2 separate regions of the Homo sapiens genome follow, and region 1 is linked to region 2. A link means that fine-mapping ties the variant in region 2 to the expression of a gene that starts in the linked region. Tissue or cell type: naive CD8 T cells. Region 2 holds a variant in brackets; the other region holds the start of a gene. All regions are shown on one strand. Distances are from middle to middle. Region 1 holds the start of MEAK7 (MTOR associated protein MEAK7). Region 2 has its middle 39 kb from the start of MEAK7.

Evidence for each region.
Region 1: it holds the start of MEAK7, and the variant in region 2 is fine-mapped to the expression of MEAK7 in naive CD8 T cells (Schmiedel 2018, PIP 0.95).

Annotation. Positions count from the first base shown.
Region 1 is chr16:84,500,732-84,508,731 of GRCh38, reverse strand. MEAK7 (MTOR associated protein MEAK7) reads left to right here and starts at 4,073. Exons shown (of 8, transcript NM_020947.4): 1 at 4,073-4,131. LOC124903736 (a long non-coding RNA gene) reads right to left here and starts at 3,930. Exons shown (of 2, transcript XR_007065149.1): 1 at 3,797-3,930; 2 at 1,053-1,386. RefSeq lists enhancers at 985-1,485, 3,613-3,732, 3,095-4,042, 4,163-4,663 and silencers at 1,758-1,994, 1,978-2,097, 4,283-4,332.
Region 2 is chr16:84,537,797-84,549,453 of GRCh38, reverse strand. No RefSeq gene overlaps it. Among named protein-coding and RNA genes, the nearest start is that of MEAK7, 39 kb to the right of the region's middle. RefSeq lists enhancers at 1-562, 1,314-2,064, 2,065-2,816, 4,306-4,805, 4,806-5,307 and a silencer at 8,097-8,391. The variant G/T (reference allele first, on the strand shown) is at 6,773.

The DNA of each region.
Region 1 (8,000 bases), 39 kb after region 2:
AATATGTGGTCCTTTGTGTCTGGCTGCTTTCACGTAACCACAGTTTTTTTTTTTTTTTTTTTTTGAGGCAAAGTCTTACTCTGTCACCCAGGCTGTAGTGCAGTGCGCGATCTTGGCTCACTGCAACCTCTGCCTCCTGGATTCAAGCAATTCTCACGTCTCAGCCTCTTGAGTAGCTAAAATTACAGGCGCCCACCACCATGCCCGACTAATTTTTGTATTTTTAGTAGAGACAGGGTTTCACCATGTTGGCCAGGCTGGTCTGAAACTCCTGAGCTCAGGTGATCCACCGAGGTAGGTGATCCACCTACCTCGGCCTCCCAAAGTGCTGCGATTACAGGCATGAGCCACTGCGCCTGGCCATAACATCAGATTTTCAAGGATTATCCACGTTGTAATGTGTCAGTGGTTCATTCCTTTTTTTTAAATTGCCAAATATTATTCCATTGTGTGGATATACCATATCTTGTCTATCCATTCTTCAGATGGGCTTTTATCTTTTTTCCACTTTAGGCTATCGTGAACAGTGCTGCTTGAACATCCAGTACTAGTGTGTGTTTGAATACAGGTTTTCAGCTTTGTGGTGTATCTAGGCGTGGGACTGCTGGTCCTATGGTAACTCTGTTTAACTTTTTGAGGACTGATTTCCCCCATGGCTGAACCATTTCACCAGCAGTGCGGGAGGAGAGAACTACCTCCTCTCCAACACTCGCTATTTAAAAAACTTTAGCCCTCTTAGGCCGGGCATGGTGGCTCATGTCTGTAATCCCAGCACTTTGGGAGGTCAAGGTGTGAGGATCGCTTGAGCCCAGGAGTTCGAGACCAGCCTGGGCAACATCGCGAGGCCCCATCTCTACAAAAAATAAAAATAGCCTGGTGTGGTGGGGTACGCCGGTGGTCCCAGCTACTTACGAGGCTGAGGTGGGAGGATGGCTTGAGCCTGGGAGGTCGAGGCTGCAGTGAGCTGAGCCGTGATTGCATCACTGCACTCCAGACTGGGTGATAGAGCAAGATCCTGTCTCAAAAACAAAACAAAAACGTTAGCTATCCTAGTGGGTGAGCCGTACATTTATTTTTGATTTTCAATTTTGAATTGTTGCATGTGGTCCGGCAAGCACTGCACAATAGAATAACTGCCTGCCACATGTGGCCATTCAAACTGAAAATGAGAATAAATTCAATAAAATGAACTCGACTTCCTCTACTGCACAAGTCAGCCGTGGCTTCCGGCTCCATGCTGGCGGCACAGATGGATCGTTGCCCGCCTCACCGAGTGCTGCTGGAGGCTGCTGGTGGTGCCTCCTCAGGGCACGGCTGCTCCTGCGTTTGCTGCTTGGTGGTGGCCTCCTAACAGCCTGGCCCAGAAGGTGGTCCATGCAGCCCAAACTTGGGTTCCAGAGATGGGGAGTCGGGGGCAAGGAGCACATGGGGAAGAGAGAGTGGATGCTCAGCCACAATGGGGGCCCGGTGGTGGCTCAGCCTTTCTGTGGAGGTGTCAAAGCTGGACATGGAAAATTGGGCAGGGATGTCGCTAGCAGAGGCACCGCTGTGGATGGCAGGACCAGCCTGGTCAGGACCTCTGGGAGCCAAGGAGAGTTCAGTGCCCAAAGTCAGCATAAAAAACAGAAGCTGGTGCCCCGGGGGCAGTTGGACAGCCCATGGACATCCCCGGGAGCACCAGCTTGTTGAAATAGCATGATGTATATTTTTAAAAGAGTCTCACTTTATATGCAAAATGTCAAGCAATATAAATCTCTTATTTAAAAAAATTGAGAATACCAGGGGCGGTGGCTCATGCCTGTAATCCCAGCATTTTGGGAGGCCGAGGTGGGTGGATTACCTAAGGTCAGGAGTTCGAGACCAGCCTGGCCAACGTGGTGAAACCCCGTCTCTACTAAAAATATAAAAATTAACTGGGTGTGGTGGCCTATGCCTGTAATCCCAGCTACTCGGGAGGCTGAGGCAGGAGAATTGCTTGAACCTGGGAGGTGGAGGCTGCAGTGAGCCGAGATTGCGCCATTGCACTCCAGCCTGGGCAACAAGAGTGAAACTCCATCAAAAACAGAAACTTTCCAACCAGGCAGGTGGGCAGATTGGAGTGTAGGCTGTTTCTGGAGGGTATGGCCACGAGGTGGCGCCACTTCGGTAGCTCTCAAACGGCGCCGCTCCGCATTTGCTTCTGTGGTTTTCTGGGGGATTTTGTTTCACCGTTTTAATAACAAGATCTCACTTTCCTGCCCAGGCTGGAGTGCAGTGGTGCAATCACGGCTCACTGCAGTCTCGCCCTCTGAGGCTCAAGCGATCCTCCTGCCTCGGCTCCCTGAGTAGCTGGGACTACGGGTGTGCCATACCACGCCCGGCCAAGCTTTTCATTTTTTGTAGAGATGGAGTCTCACTATGTTGCCCAGGCTGACACATCGGCTCCGGTTTGCTCCTGCGGACCCCCCAGTACCTGCACCTGAGAGGCCACCATTGCTGTCCACCCTTGGTGTGCCTCAGCCTACAAAAAACTGTTGCTATGTCAAAAATGCCACTACCTCGGATGGCACTGAAAAAGACACACCTGGTTGATGTGTGCAGGAAGTACAGGGGTGTGAAGGCTGGAAACAGGGTCTAGTCCTTCATGTCTAAAGGCCCGTGTGTCTTGGGCATCAGGAGCCCTGGCTGCAGGTGACAGGCACCTACTCTAAGAAGCCGAGGTGAAGAGCTGGGGCTACTCGTGTCATTGGCATCCACAGCTGGGGGTACCCTGGCTGTAGATGCGTTAGTTTGTGGAGCTGCTTCTCCTGGGACATTGGCCTTGGATCTCAGAGCAATGTCTTGGTGAGGGGCCCTACCTTGTGCACTGTCACCAGCCAGGCCTGCTGCCCTCAGGCAGAAAGCCTTCTATTTTTGTTCCAGCTTAAAGAATAAGAGGTGACCAGCCGGGTGCAGTGGCTAACCCCTACAATTCTAGCACTGTGGGAGGCCGAGGCAGGCAGATCACCTGAGGTCAGGAGTTCGAGACCAACTCAAGCGGACGTTGGCGGGCGAAGTCACGGTTTTCCAGGCTGGAAAACCAGCAGGCCGTGCAGGGGAGAGAACTGGTACCATGGACATGCGGGAGCTGAATCTGCAGGAAGGTGGACCCCAGGGAGGATGCGTGGGGTGGAGAGAGTAGGGAGAAGTCGAGAAACTCCAGGGCAGAAGCCAGAAGGGCCCAGGGAAGACCACCAGGGACAGCGAGCGAGCCAGGGCCAGGAATGGGCGCCGGGGTGCCCAAGAGAGAGGTCTGATGAGAGCACGATCACCAAGCGCCAAATGCTGCCTGCGAGGACCCAAAGCGCACCTCGGATGTAGTGAGCAGGCCCCCGGGACCAGGTTTCGGTGGGTTTGAGAAGGAACGAGCTGAAGAAGTGGGGTGACAGGTTCAGACGTCTTGGAGTGAACGGGAACCGGCTGAAGAGGCGCACGTGGGGTGGAGGGAGTCTGTTTAGCCAGGCTGTGGAGCTGGCGCCTGATGGCTGCCGGGAAGGACCTGGTGCCAGGGAAGAGCGAGGCAGGGGCAGCTGGCAGAGGGAGGCCCGAGGGGAGGCGGACCCGAGGCTCTAGGCCAGGACCAGCAGGCCGGGGAGTCAGGGGAGAGTTGCCTGGGGCCCAGGAGGCTGCACTGCAGAGGCCTCTGCATGGGCTCCACATGGGCCACTCTCCTCCCCCGGGTGTCTTCACCCCCAAGCTCAGCCTCTCCCCCAGGATCTCCCACACCCTGGCTACTCCGCTCCAGCGCCCAGCCCAGACACCCCTTCTCCCCAGGTACCACTGCTGGCCTGGCCTGGCCTGAGTCATTGGCCGCCCTCTCCAGGCGCCTCCTTGGTACGCACGCAGCCGGGCCGGATTCCCGGGCCTGCAGCCGCTCCTCCCGCAGACCGCGGCCCCGCCCCGAGCCGCACCCACCGGGTTCGGCTCACTCCCTGTGAGGCGCGTCACCATTGGCTGACTCCTCTCTTGGGTTCCGCCCCACACCTCCGCTTCCACGATTGGACCAAATGACTGCCCCTCAGCAATGTTGCCTGGCAACAGGGAAGGGGCGGCTCTCGAGAGGAGCCCGTGGGCTGCTGGACCGGACCGGACAGCACCAGGAAGCCCGGCAGGGTAGGTACCTGGGCTGAGGTTCGCAGTGAGCTGACCCAGAGGCGCAGGCCCAGCTGAGTCGGGGGACTGGAGCAGACGGGTCCAGAGTAGGCCTGGGCCCTGCCCCTCCCTGGCCTCCCACGCCTCTTCAGGCCCTCGGGTCGGGGGAGGGAGAGGTGAAGGCTGCGGGGAGGTGAGGGGTGGGGACAGCGGGGCGGGATGGAGGGAGGGTCTCCTGGGGGGGATCAGAATCATCCTGCACCTCCCGCTGTTTATGTGGTCAAGGTAAGAGGGTGGCGAGGTGCTTCCCCCAGGGCCAAGGCCAGCCGTGTTGAAGGGGGATTCAGAGCCTGTGTAGACGCGGAAAGGGAGGGGTGCCTCCACGGAGGAGGCGAGTCTGGGGTAGACACTGAAGTGTGTGTGGAGGGGGTTTTCCTTCTTGTATTCTGACCACACCCATCTGGGCTTTTCCAGGACAGTGAGCTGATAACTGTTCCCAGGCCATGTAGGTGGCCAGCACAGGACAGGTCACCTTCTGGCCCACAGGAACTTCTTGCCCAGGCTCAAGCTGCCCCTTCGCACAAGGGCCTCTGGGCTCTGAGACACAGACAGGACTTCGAAGCCTGTCCAGATGAGGCAGTTGGAATCTCCCCAGCTTGTGGGGGTACGGAGGGACCCTTGTGTGGCTCTAGGGATGCGGGGCCCTTGGAGTAGAGAGTTGGAGCTTGGCAGCCAGGGTGGGAAGCAGCCATGTAACAGCCTGTTGGAGAAGCTCTGAGCAGGAGGTGACTAAGCCATTCCTAGGATACTAGTGGGAACCTTGGGGGCCATCCTGCAGACAATCGGTCCCTGTCCACCCCTCCATCACGGAGGCAGAGCAACCTTCCGTTTCTTCCAAGCAGGGCAGTTTCTCTTGTTCTAAGACAAGATCCCAAGGAGCCATTCTCTGTTGTCTTGGGCCCATTATTCTGTCTCTGACCTCCAGTAAGCAGATCAAATGCCCTGGGTTACCTTATTTAATCTTCTCAACCTTATGTTAAAGAAATTAATTAATGATGCTTATTAAAAGCACATTAATTATTGAAGACCATTGCAATGGGTATAGGGACCACAGCAATGGGATTTTGTAGTAAAGGAGAGAGATTGGGCTCAACTCTGATTATAGCATGGGCAAGTGGGAAGCCAGGAAGCAGGGTGGGGATCAGTGGATGGAAGATGACTGAGGAAACATCAGGGCGCTAGGGTGGATTCTGGGTAAGCTTACCTAGCAGTTTGTTACTGAAGGCAGGCCAGGGTGATCAGACATCACCTAGGGCAAGCTCGTCCAACCCGTGGGCCATATGTGGCCTAAGGCGGCTTTGAATGACATCCAACACAAATTCATAAGCTTTCTTAAAACATGAGATTTTTTTTTTACCATATATGTAGATATATGCACTTATCAGTTATTGTTAGTGGGTTTTATGTGTGGCCCAAGACAGTTCTTCCAGTGTGGCCCAGGGAAACTGAAAGATTGGATATCCCTAACCTAAGCATTAAACCTGGTTAGATAGCAAGTGAACAGATAATGGTGATCAAATATCAAGGATGAGTGGTTTTGTGGGTTTTTTTGTTTGTTTGTTTTTTGTTTTGCTAAAACCAGATTTTACAAAGAGGTACACAGATGGGCCCAGGAGCCTGACTAAAGTCTGGTCAAGCAAAACATCTTGGTCACTTATTATGGGCTGCTGGAACTTTTGTTTGTGTTTTTATGAGACAGAGTCTTGCTCTGTCACCCAGGCTGGAGTGCACTGTTGTGATCTTGGCTCACTGCGACCTCTGCCTCCTGGTTCAAGCGATCTTCCCACCTCAGCCTCCTGAATAGCTGGAACTATAGTCACACGCCACCACACCCGGCTGAGGTTTGTATTTTTGGCAGAGACGAAGTCTCACTATGTTGCCCAGGCTGGTCTCAAACTCCTGGCCTCAAATGATCCTCCCAAAGTTCTGGGATTATAGGCTTGATGATGGAAAGCTTTCAGTCCCTGGCAAGTTTTCTCGGTGTCATGGGACTTTCACAGTACACCTGGGTACATGGGGTGGCCTCTTCTCTGCAAAGCTGTGCATAACACAACCCTACATTGGCCTCGAGACTTCTGTGGGTTCCCTTGTATCAAGTTCCGCTTCCATTTTGTTCCGCTGCCCTACATCCTCAGAAGCCAGGTTTTCTCACCTTCAGCCCTACCGATGTCTGGGACGGACACTTCCTCGTCGTAAGGCCATCCTGTGCACTGTAGGATTTTTAGCAGTATCCCTGGCCTCTGCCTGCTAGATGCCAACGGCACTCCCCTCCCCCAGTTGTGGCAACCACACACTTTTCCAGTCATTGCCAAATGCCCCTGGGGGACGAAACTGCTCCAGTCGAGCTCCACTGGTACAAGCAACCTTGATGTGCGCTGTCAGCACCAGCACCAGCGTGCATTGTCTTTTTTTTTTTTGAGACCGAGTTTCACTCTTGTTGCCCAGGCTGGAGTGCAATGGCATGATCTTGGCTCATTGCAACCTCCGCCCCCTGGGTTCAAGCAATTCTCCTGCCTCAGCCTCTCAAGTAGCTGGGATTACAGGCATGCACCACCACACCCGGTTAATTTTGTATTTTTAGTAGAGACAGGGTTTCTCCATGTTGGTCCAGCTAGTCTCGAACTCCCGACCTCAGGAGATCCACCCGCCTCGGCCTCCCAAAGTGCTGGGATTACAGGCGTGAGCCACCACACCATTGCCATTTCTTTATCTTGCCTGGCACGGGGCTCTCAAAGGAGACGGGCTGTCCTTGAGCCGTTCTGAGACGTGTCCCTTCACCAGCACTCTGCAGGTACTAAGAATGGCAGTGCTGTGGACAGCGCTGTGTTCTTAGGGGCTGCCCACCTTCCCACCTCACTGGCACCAGCCCTGGGGTTCCTACTGGGGCCTCCCATGCAACCTCCTCTCTCCTGCTTGAAAAAGTGGCGTTGCCAGCCTGGCTCTGCGTCCAAGCCTTTCCTGTCATCTCCTGGGCCTGCCCTGGTCTGCGCCGCTTCTGTGCATTTCTGGGTTCCTGTCCTGCCTGTTGGCACTTGCCCAGCCCTGCACCTTTCTCCCGGCTGTCTGGGGTTGGTGAGGGCTGGCCAGGCTGCACCCTGCTGCTGTTCTCCGACCACAGTGGGGGAGCCTGTTTCTGGCAGAAAGTGGGAGTTGGGGTGGGATGGAAGTGAGGGGCTGGGTGGAGTCAGGCCTGGGCCCCCTTCTGCTGCAGCCCTCTGCTGCCCTCCCCCACGTGCCCTGAGTTCCACCCTTGCCTCGCTGATCCCAACGCTCTTGCTTATGCCCCGTGCGTGCTGTTCCCACTTCCTGGTGAATCACCTGTGAGTCTCTGAAGACTCAGCTGGAATGTGACCTTTGGGACCTTTTCCACTCTTCACTCTTCTTGTTACACCCCCAGGCCACACCCATCCCCATGCCCTTGTCTCTGTTTCCCCTCTTTTTTTTTTTTTTTTTTTTCTTTTTTTTTTTGAGACGAGTCTAACTCTGTTGCCCAGGCTGGAGTGTAGTGGCGTGGTCTCGGCTCACTGCGACTTCCGCTGTCCGTGTTCAACCAATTCTTCTGCCTCAGCCTCCCAAGTAGCTGGGATTACAGGTGCACAGCACCATGCCTGGCTAATTTTTTTGTATTTTTAGTAGAGATGGGGTTTCATGTCGTTGGCCAACCTAGTTTCGAACTCCTGACCTCAGGAGATGGTGTGGCCCACCTTGCAGGCTCTTCGAGTTGATGCAGAGGGTGGGTCTGCTTTGTTTTGGCTGCTTGGGCTGTGTCCCTGCAGCACCCAGACTCAGCCGGTGCAGCCCCTCTGTTTCAGAGCTGGGGACAGCCGCCT
Region 2 (11,657 bases):
TGACAGGATGTGCACACAGCTCTCTCTTCCTGGAACTCAGACAAGCGCATGTCCCGGTTGCCGACAGAACGGCCCCACCACAGGTCAGGGCTCCGGACGCATGGACACATTCTCTGCCTTTCCTGCTTCTCCCAGCAGGCCCTGTCTCTGCCACCTCCCCATCAGCCCCGTGTTCTCCAGCTTGAGACCTTGGCATGTCCTTCCTCCATCCTCCTGCCTCTCCTCCTCCACCCTCTGTATCACTGGTGGCTGATTCTAAGTGGGCAAGGCCTCCTGCGTCTCAGCCTGCCTCCCTGCTCGGTTGAGACTCTCGTCTGGCATGGGGTTGGCTGCCCCGGGGCATCTCTGGGCAGGGGACTGGGGATCCAAGGCCTCCGGGGCCTGGCAAGTACGGGGAGGAGGGCTGGAGGCTGGGCACCAAGGAGACAACAGGGAGAGGTGGGGACTGTGGCCAGGGGAGGGCGCGTGTCTTTCTAAAGAGGGCAGCTGCATGGTGACTGTGTGCTCCCAGATTTTCTTATTTTCTAAAGGAGTCCTAAATATAGATATTTATATACAAGTGATTGACATTTCATCAAAACAAGCACATTCTCATTACCCTGGCCAACCAACACGGAGGAGTCGGGGTGGTGGAAGCAGGCAGCCACTCGCCCCACAGGCTGGCTCCGTGTGAGAGGCGAGGCGTGGAGACAGCAGGTCTCCAGGTTGCTGGAGGCTTGAAAGCCTGAATAGATGCACCCGGCTGCATCTCCAGGTCCCCAGGCTCCTGCCAGGCCAGGCTCTTTGTGGATTCTAGAACATTCTCTTCAGCTGCCTGAGCCCCTGTGGCTGTTTCCATGGCCCTGCAGGGTCTGAGGGAAAAGTGAGCCCTGTGCTGCTTTTTTTTTTTTTTTTTTTGAGATCGAGTTTCACTCTTGTTGCTGCCCAGGCTGGAGTGCAATGGCACAATCTCGGCTCACCGCAACCTCCGCCTCCTGGGTTCAAGTGATTCTCCTGCCTCAGCCTCCTGAGTAGCTGGGATTACAGGCATTTGCCACCACGTCCAGCTAATTTTGTGTTTTTAGCAACGACAGGGTTTCTCCATGTTGGTCAGGCTGGTCTCAAACTCCTGACCTCAGGTGATCTGCCTGCCTCAGCCTCCCAAAGTGCTGGGATTACAGGCGTGAGCCACCGCGCCCAGCCGTGTGCTGCTGTCTTTAGAGCCTCTCGAGGCCCCGCTTTCGGCTGAGCACCCCCCCCCCTCCTATGTGACATGGAGATGCCCCAGGCCTGGGATTGTCCCCGTGGATTTGCGAGCATCTTGGGCAGATGCTGTGGGAGGGCCTGACCTCTCCTGCAGGGTGAATGAACTGTTTGTGTATGTGTGTGGGTTGGGCGGGTGGGTGCTGGGTTATTCCTGGGCTGACAAAGAGACCCCAACCCCAAAGCCCAGCCTCGGGAAGCAGGCTCAGCCCACCAGCTGTCAGGGAGGGATCCCGGGCTGGGGGAGTTGGAGGGGGCTGTCAGACAGAAGAAAATGTTGCCTCCCACAAGCCCCTGGGGGCCTTCAAACCCGGCCCCTGCTGAGATGTTTTTCTAAAAGGCTCTTCGTGGCAATAGCCATTAGGCCCAAAGGTCTGCAGTTGATACGACCTTAGGGTCTCAGGTTTCTTTGAGTCTCAGGTTTCTTTGACGTGTGGAAAGGCATTCCCTCTGGGCCTCCATGGAGCCTACAGCCTAAACAGGGGCCCCTGAGCCACAGCGCTGCTGCTGCAGAGGAGTTGGCTGGGTCTTCTGGGGGTAGGGGCAGGACAGAGGGAAGCTTCTGTTTTCACTTGGGACCTACGGAAAAAGCGCCGTAGTGGGAACTTTGGTGACATCATTCTCTCCTATGAGAGGCGGCGTGGTTAAACCATTTTACACAACAGGAGACTGAGGCTCAGAGAGACGAAGCTGGTTGCCTGAGGAGGTGGAGGAGCTGGGATTTGAACTCGTCAGTGAGCTGGACAATCTGGTGTTTCCCCTCTTCCCTCCTTGCTTTCCTCCCTTTCTTCCTTTTCTCTCTCCCTCTCCCCCTCCCCCTTTTCTCTTCCGTTACTCCCAGAACCGTCCACCGTGGCCTCTTTACATTCCAAGCTGGATTTTCTCCTGATCGCTCCAGTTCTCGAGGCGAAAAGCAAAGTCAGTGCTATGCAACAAGGCCGGCTGTGGTTGTGCCCCCAATGTCTCACTGGCTTCGTCGCCCACCACGGTCCTCATTTATTCTGTTGCAGGCCCTCGGGTCTCCTCGCTGGGCCTCCTGCTCACACAGCACCATCCTGCCTCAGGGGGACTCCTGCTGTGCCTGGAGCCCACTGACCTCTAAGTACCCATGCTGGTCCCTCATTCATGCAGCTCCCTGCTCAATGTCACCTTAGTGGAGTAGAATGTCACCTTGCCCTGACCCCATTCTAAAACAGCACCTGTGTCTTTTCGAGGTCCCCGAGCCCCACTTATGTTTCTTTGTAGCACTTATCACCACCTGATACCGTGTGTCTATTCGCTTGTTCATTGCTGTCTTTCCCCGCCAGAAGACAAAGTGTAATCTCCAGAGGGTAATCTCCAGTAGAGCAGAGACTTCATTTTGATCGTCGTTACTTGCTCAGCACCAAGAACAGTTCCAGGCATGGGGCAGGTGCTCAATAAAACTCGTTGAATGCATGACTCTGTATCTGTATCTATGTCTATATAGATAAATAGCTTAGCTTTATTTATTTATTTATTTATTTATTGAGACATGATTTTGCTCTGCTGCCCAGGCTGGAGTGCAGTGGTGCCATCACGGCTCACTGCAACCTCTGCCTCCCGGGTTCAAGCAATCCTCCTACCTCAGCCTCCTGAATAGCTGGGACTACAGGTGTGCACCACCACGCCCAGTTACGTTTTTCTATTTTTTAGAATAGAAATCTGGGATTACAGATTTGAACCACCACACCTGACCAGCATTGTATTTTTTTAATGCAGACAGTTCTGTAACTTTTTTTTTCATGTATTAGTCTGTTTTGGAGACCTTTATACTTCACTGCATATAGACTGGCTGTCCTCAACCACGGGCAATTTTGCCCCCAGGGAACACTCGGCAATGTCTGGATGCATTTCTGGGTGTCACACCAAGGAGGCTGGTGCTACTGGCATCTGGTAGGTAGAGCCAGGGATACCGCTAAACCTCCTGCAATGCACAGGACACTCCCCCCCCCAACCACAAAGGATGATCCAGCCCAAATGTCACTTGTACCCATGTTGAGAAACCCAGATATAGACATAGCATTCTTTCTTATGGTAACAGATTCCATAGTGTAAATGTACCATCATTTAACCACTCACTTACTGATGAGCATTTTAGGATATTTCCAATTCTTTACTGTTGCAAACAATGCTGCAAGGAACATCCCTGCATAAGCATCCATGCCTCTTCATGCACATGGGCAGGTATTTCCCGAGGACAGATAGCCAGCAGAGGGTCAAAAGAGGACGTGCACCATGTTTTATTTTTTATTTTTTTTGAGATGGAGTCTCGCTCTGTCCCAGGCTGGAGTGCAGTGGCGCGATCTCCGCTCACTGTAACCTCTGCCTTCTGGGTTCAAGTGATTCTCCTGTCTCAGCCTCTAGAGTAGCTGGGATTACAGGTGTCTGCCACCATGCCTGGCTAATTTTTGTATTTTTAGTAGACACGAGGTTTCACCATGTTGGCCAGGCTGGCAAACTCCTGACCTCAGGAGATTCACCCACCTCGGCCTCCCAAAGTGCTGGGATTCCAGGCGTGAGCCACCGCCCCTGGTCAGGACATGCACCTTTGACATGGAGACAGCCTCTGTCAAGTCGCCCTTCACACAGGCTGTAACCAAAGCACACTTCCAGCACAGCATGGCAGGGGTGCCAGCTTCCACCATCTGTGCTGTGGGTGATGGCTTTGAGACCTTCCCCAGGGGCCTCTCAACACAGTGCACTTAATCAGAGGGAGACTTGTCCTGAGCATGGAGCGAAGGCAATCCACTTTTGCTGTTTCTCTCTGTGCCAGCTCCTCCCCACCCTTCTCTGTGACACTTCAGATCCCAGCTCTGCCACTTATCGTCACCTCACCTCTCCGTGCCTTAGTTTCTCCATCTGTAAAATGGAGCTAACAATAGCAACTTCTGCTCAAGGAGAGTTGGGAGAATTACATAAGTTAATACTTGCAAAAACTTTCAGGCCGGCTAAGCAGTCCTCGAACATGAGCTATTATCCTGTGACATTCCTCCAGAGACAGCAGCGTGCATCATCTATAGTGCCGAAAATTGGAAGCAGGCAGGTGTCCCCCCTGTAACGGAAACACCAAGTGCTTTGCACGGCACCATGAAGCAGCGTGATATCCAGGCTTTAAAAATAATCCCAGGATTCAGGCTCAGGGGTCAGCCAGGAGGAGAGGACACCCGAGAATAGCCCCGATGGAATGCAAATCCTGAATTTACCCAGGAACTGGCCAAAGGGGCTTTTGAGCCTGAACGAGGTCAATTATCCTAAAGTGCCACCTTTCCGAGTTTTCTACTACTTCATAAGCACACGGAGTGCAGTTAGAAATTGAATTTCATTTTTGCACATTTAAACGAAATGATCCTGGGGACTCTGGGGCACAGAGGAAATGCCCAGATGGTGTGAAATGAGGGTGTGTGCAGCCCCTGATGCCCCCGGCCCAGGTTTCAGGCCTCCAGGCCCCTTCGTCTGCTTTATTTTCTTTGCAGGAGTCTCGGGCTGCAATGACATGGTTTGCTTCGGGTTCTCCGGCGCCGCCTGCCTCCTCTGTCAGATGCCGGTGTTCGGGGGTGGCTTCGTTGGCTTCCTTCCTTCTCTGTTCCAGACCTAAGAGGATGCCTGGGCCCTCGTGGGTGCTCGGCAAACAGGTGTTCCGTTCCCGTTGTAAAATATTGGCAGTGTGACAATGACTGCGGGGGAGTGTGGGGGCAATTCCGAACTGTGTGTAGATCAGGCTTCATGACATAAAAAGTGGGGAAAGTTGAGATGAGCTGTACACAGATTTCTCCAAAGGTCAAACTGGCACCTCCATGAGTTACGTGTACAGAAGTAAAAAGAATCTTTAATAAATCCAGAAAGGGAAGGTAGGGGACGGCCGAGGCCAGGGCACCAGGTAAGCAGGAAGGTGGCGTGAACGCTGTTTGTAATGAATGTTCCCCTTGGGGACACCTGGCAGGGAGGACCCTGTGCACACATCCCAGAGTGCTCTGGGAACCCCTAGGAATCCATTATAAGGACAAGACAGCTATTTAATTTCCCATGAGTCATATTTCTTTTCCAGTGTTTTTATAAGAGTTAATGTCAGAGGCTAGGCCAGGCGCAGTGGCTCGCGCTTGTAATCCCACTCTGGGAGGCTGGAGCGGGGGATCACTTGAGCCCAGAAGTGTGATATCAGCCTGGAAAACATGGCAAAACCCTGTCTCTATGAAAGAAATTTTTTTTAATTAGCTGGGCGTGGTGGCATGCCTGTAGTCCCAGCTACTCAAGAGGCTAAGGTGGGAGGATCACCTGGGCTCAGGGGTTCGAGGCTGCAGTGAACTATGATGGTGCCACTGCACTCCAGCCTGGGTGACAGAGCGAGACCCTGACTCGTAAAACAAACCAGAGAGTTAAAGTCAGAAGGCTTGTCCACGGTTCCTTAGGTTTTGTTCCAAAACGCACATCTGGGCTGTGGTCACAGAGTTGCTTATTTCAACCCTGGGATGACCTAGTGGCCCCTTTACCAAAACCACCTTTAGTGACCTCTCATTGGTAGCCTGAAATCAGCCACAATGGAAGTGTTTACACCAGGGAAATTGGAAATCAGTAAAGGCCTTCCTTCCAAGCCATTGTTAAACAGTTACCAGCACACCACTGCATGCCCACAGCTGTTCTAAGAACTCTACATAATTCACTCATTTAATCCTTTCGGCCACCCTGTGATATGTGGTATTATTATTATTCCCATTCTACAGATGGGAAAACTGAGGACCAAGAAGTTTAAGTAACTTGCCCAAAGTCACACAACTGTAGAGGATGCAGGCTTTAAACCTAGACATTCTGGATCCACTGTCTGTGTTGTTGACTGCTGAACTCTATAGCTCACTGAAACCCTGACTTCGTGGACATTATTGCTTAGAGTTATGCTGAGAAAGGCAGAAAAAAAAATCACACAGTAGGTTGACTTAAAAAAATATGGGCTGGGTGCAGTGGCTCACGACTGCAATCCCTGCACTTTTGGAGGCTGAGGCAAGAGGATCACTTGAGCCCGGGAGTTTGAGACAAGCCTGGGCAACATAATGAGACCCCTATCACTGTAAAAAAAAATTTAAAGGCTGGGCGCGGTGGCTCACGCCTGTAATCCCAGCACTTTGGGAGGCCAAGGCGGGCAGATCACCTGAGGTCAGGAGCAGAAGTTGGAGACCAGCCTGGCCGACATGGCAAAGCCCTGTCTCTACTAAAAATACAAAATTAGCTGGGCATGGTGGTGCATGCCTGTAGTCCCAGCTACTCGGGAAGCTGAGGCAGGAGAATCGCCTGAACCCGGGAGGAGGAGATTGCAGTGAGCCAAGATTGCACCATTGCATTCCAGCCTGGGCAACAAAAGCAAAACTCTGTCTCAAAAAAAAAAAAAAAAAAAGATTAAAAATTAGCTGGGCATAGTGGTGCAGGCCTGGAGTCCCAGCTACTCAGGAGGCTGAGGTGGGAGGATGGCTTGAGCCTGGGAAGTTGAGGCTACAGCCCCCACCCTCATCCCGAGCTGACC[G/T]CTGCCTGGACCTAACACCTGAGCTTGGCTTTGCTGGTTTGTGTTAATGTTTTACACACAGGGTGGACTTTTTGTCTGGCTGCTTTCCCTCCCCGTCGTGTCTGAACTCCATACAAATTTAGGGTTTAGTTGTAAATCATTCTTTCTCAACTTTTGCACAGTTTTTCATGGTTGGTTGTATATGTTTTGGGGAGACAGAAGACATCAACCAATACATGATTTTCACAAATTTACACCCCTATTTATTCACCCATTCCACTGTGATGAGTATTGGGGTGGTTTCTTATTTGAAGCTATTATGAAGAGAGCTGCTATGAACATTCTAGGACATTCTAGGCTTTTGGTGTGTACATTTCTATTGCGTATATCCTAGGAGTGGACTTGCTGGGTCATAGGAATACAAGCGTCCAGGGAAAGATGGAGTTTTATCTGAAATCTCCTGACTTTACAGTGACAGAGGCTAATGCATATATTTTTTTAAACAACAAAGACTCAGCCAAGCAAAACATTCTTCAGGCAAGTCAGACCTGCTAGTGGCCAATTTACAGCCTTTAGTCTAGATTAGACTTCGCTTTCTCTACTAGCCCAAGATCTGTTTCATTGTTTCATTTTGTTTTTTACATTTTTATAACTGTTTTCATTATAAAAGAACTATAACTGCATTATGAAAAATTCAGAAAATGGAGTAAAGAAAATAAATTCACCAAGAGTTCAGCCCCCTAAAGCAAACACAGTCATAGCTTCGTATATCTTGTTCTAGTGCTTTTTTCCTGTGCATATGTATTTTAAAATAAATTTGCAATATTGCTTCATATAAATTATATAAACTGCCATTTGATGTGATCATTTTTGCATTTGCCTGTTATTACACAGTCGTCATATTCCACTACGGTCGGTTTTCGATTCACTTAATTTTCTGAGTAGAGAAAACAATTCCTGTCTTTCTATTTTAGACTTATTAAATCTATAAATAAAAGGCTGCTGGAAAGAGGGCGTTTTCTGCTATAATAATAAGGCTTTATTCAAGGCATAAGGAATGTGGTTTTAAGAGGATGAAGCTGGACACAGTGGCTCATGCCTGTAATCCCAGCACTTTGGGAGGCCGAGGCAGGCAGATCACTTGAGGTCAGGAGTTCAAGATCAGCCTGGCCAACATGGCAAAAGCCCATCTTACAAAAATTACAAAAATTAGCCAGGTGTGGTGGTGTGCGCCTGTGGTCCCAGCTACTCAGGAGGCTGAGGTGGGAGAATCGCTTGAGCCCAGGAGGCGGAGGTTGCAGCGAGCTGAGATCACACCACTGCACTCCAGCCTCGGCAACGATGAGACCCTGTCTAAAAAAAAAAAAAAAGGATGGAGCCTGCAGCCACACTACTTGGATTCAGAATCCTAACTCTACTCAATCCCCACTGAGTGACCACTCCAGGCCTCGGTTTGCTTCATCTTGAAAATGGAGATGATAAACAGCTCCTGACTCACAGCTTGTCATGAGGATTAAATGAGGTGATACCTGTAATGTGCTCAGAACAGGGGTTGGAATGTTACAAACATATAGCAAGGGTTGGCTATTGATTACTAGGTACAATGGTCACTATTTTGTTCATCATAGAACGAAAGCCCAGCAAGAACCCCTGTGAACATTTGTGGGAATATTCTGCTGGGCTTGTATTAGTGCCTACGTAATATGCACATGCAGACACCAAATGTGCAGATTCACACATGTATACTGTTTTGTTATCTGTTTCTTGGCGACTCTAAATTTTTTCTTTTCTTTTCTTTTTTTTTGAGATGGAGTCTTGCTGTGTCACCCAGGCTGGTGTGCAGTAGAGCAATTTCAGCTCACTGCAACCTCCGGCTCCTGGGTTCAAGTGATTCTCCTGCCTCAGCCTCCCAAGTAGCTGGGACTACACCTCAGCCTCCCAAGTAGCTGGGTGCATGCCATGATGCCTGGCTAATTTTTGTATTTTTAGTAGAGACAGGGTTTCGCCTTGTTGGCCAAGCTAGTCTCGAACTCCTGACCTCAGGTTATCTAGCCGCCTCAGCCTGCCAAAGTGCTAGGATTACAGGCGTGAGCCACCATGCCCGGCCTAAATTTTCTTTCTGTGTCATTGTTGGGAGACAGTTCTCCATGGGTCTCTCAGGTTTCTACATGTCTTGCAAGTAGAAGAACTATCTTTACAAGGATGTTTATATAGCAAACAACTTTGTTAGACAGAGACAGTGTGTCCCCTCAGATCAAAGGGCAAATTTGTTTTCTGTCCAATATAGATAGATGTTTGCCCCCAGGGCAAGGATCAGGATTTCTTATAAGAAATTTGGGCTCCCTGAGCTCAGGGATCCTCAGCTGTGAGAAATGTGCTGTGTGCGCAACACCCACCCCTTCCGGGCCCCTTTGCATGGCCCCTGTGGGACTTGGGGACAAGGGAAACCGATGCAAACATAAAGCTCATGCTACTTGCTGTGCTGCGAGTAATAAAGTCACTTGTCTCTGACCCAGGAGGCTCGTGTCTTCTGCCAGCAACCATGGCACTGCAGCAGGCTCACCTGGGGGCTTTCACAGAGGGTCAAATCCCAGCTCATCCATGGGCCTTGAGAATCATGAAACAGTCTTCCCCAGCATCACTTCCAGGTTCTACCAGAGTCCCCTCATTTGGCCCCTCTATCATTCTTTGGGTTAATCTTCCATCTTTGGAAACGTAGCTTGCTTTCCATTTTGTCACTGTTTTAAACAATGCTGTAGTGTGCACTTGTAGCTGAGCTTCGTTCTCATGTGACTACCCCGATACTGTAAATCAGAGATTCTGAGGAGTGTTGGCAGGACCCCTGATGCCAGCAAGTTCAGCCTCTTGATGCCCATCGCACATTGAGGCCTAGTGGGTCCTGAGCCACTGGGAGTTCCCCTCACCCCTCATTCTCCACTGGCCTCTCTCCCTGGGCCTGTAGAATCTTCCCAGCCTCCCTCATCCTCCCGAGTCTCCCTGGGGGGCATTTAACACACTGGACTCTAATTGAGGGGTCCTTTCTCTCCAGATCCTGAGCTCTTTGAGGGCAGGGACTTCCTCATCCTTGTGTCCCCAGGACCTGGCACATTGGGTGCTCATCCAATGTTAACAGAACCTAAACAGAAACCATCAACAGATTCAAAAAGGACATCCAGGCACCGTACGTTAGGGCGTCGAGCCTACTGGTTCACTCTCGTACCTCTGTACTCCAGGAGGTATTCTGAGTGTCGCAGAATCACATCTACTGTCAGGGAGCTGCAGTCAAAGGAAACCAAGGACTGGAAGGAAGAGTTGCACTGAGGAGGGGCAGAGTCAGCTCCTTAACCTCCCTAAGGCTTCTCACAGTGAGCCCTCTAGAAAGGTTTATTTATTTATCTTTTACTTTTACTTTTTGATTTGTATTATTTATTTATTTATTTATTTGAGATGGAGTCTAGCTTTGTTGCCTAGGTTGGAGTGCAGTGGCGTGATGTCGGCTCACTGCAATCTCCACCTCCCAGGTTCAAGTGATTTTCCTGCCTCAGCCTCATGAGTAGCTGGGATTACAGGCATGTGCCACCACACCCGGCTAATTTTTGTATTTTTAGTAGAGATGGGGTTTCATCATGTTAGCCATGCTGGTCTTGAACTCCTGACCTCAGGTGATCCGCCTGCCTTGGCCTCCCAAAGTGCTGGGATTACAGATATGAGCCACCACGCCCGGCCTTATTTTTATTTTTTAAGCCCCCATTCTGAGAAGCAACTTTTATTTTTTATTGAGATACAGTATATACAGAGAAGTGCACACGTCTGAAGTGTACAGCTCCAAGAACACTCACACACTAAGCACAACCATGCAATGGCATTCAGGTCAATAACACACTAGTGTCAGCCCCCAAGCCCCACTTCATGCCCCCTATTGAGTCACCCTCAACAGTAAGCGTGACTCGAACTTCCAACAGCACAGAACCATATGCTGTGTACGCTGTTGTGTCTGGCTTCTTTCATTCCGTATTGTTTGTGAGAGTCGGCCATATTGTGTGTAGTTTGAAGCCATTCTTCTTTCTGTGTGGTTTTCCATCACTTGGACAGACCACATTTATTTAGCCATTCTACTATTGATGGGCATTTGGGTGGTTTCCAATGTGGGGCTATTGTGAACAGTGTTGCAAAGAACATTCTAGTTCAACTCCTTATCCACACACATCCCCCTTCTGGGTGTATACACAGTGAAAATGCTGGGTTATGGTGCAGATCTATGGTCTGCTTTAGTGGATGCTCTGAAATTCTTAGAAAAATATTTATTTAATGAATAACTTTCCTGAGTCAAAGAATCAGGGTGATGGATAAGTTGAAATTATAGCTACAGTCAGGGCCAGTCTCGTGGGTAATTATCTCCCAGGGCAGCAGCCAAGGGCCCTGCACTCAGAAGGGCCTGTGCTTGGGATTTAATTCTTTGAAATTCCTAATAATTTTACTGATGGGACAACAGAGCATGTCCCGATTACCCTCCGCATCCCCCGGTGGCATCGGCAGAAGGCCTGGCTGACATTTATGGCTGAGAGGTTGTCAGTCCCCTGGGGCTGGCGTGAAGGAGCCATGGGGGACATAGCCCTGAAGGGGCCAAGGGGTCTCCGACAGCTGGGCAGCCTAAGGCTGGGGAGTGGCCATTTCGGAGCGTGAAAAGCTTGTGAAATGATCTTGAGGCCCCATTCATAATGCATGAGAGGTCGGGTGGGGGAGCCTCTCTGGACACAGGGCCTTTGTTCCTGCCAGGACTATGGGAGCACTTTCTTCATAATCGTCTCAGAGAGGAAGGAAGCGAAGAAGATTTATCTCCCAGAGTCGAATCCGCTTCCTTGGGAGAGGCGGCTATCTGTCCCTCACAGAACTGAGTGCCCCCAAG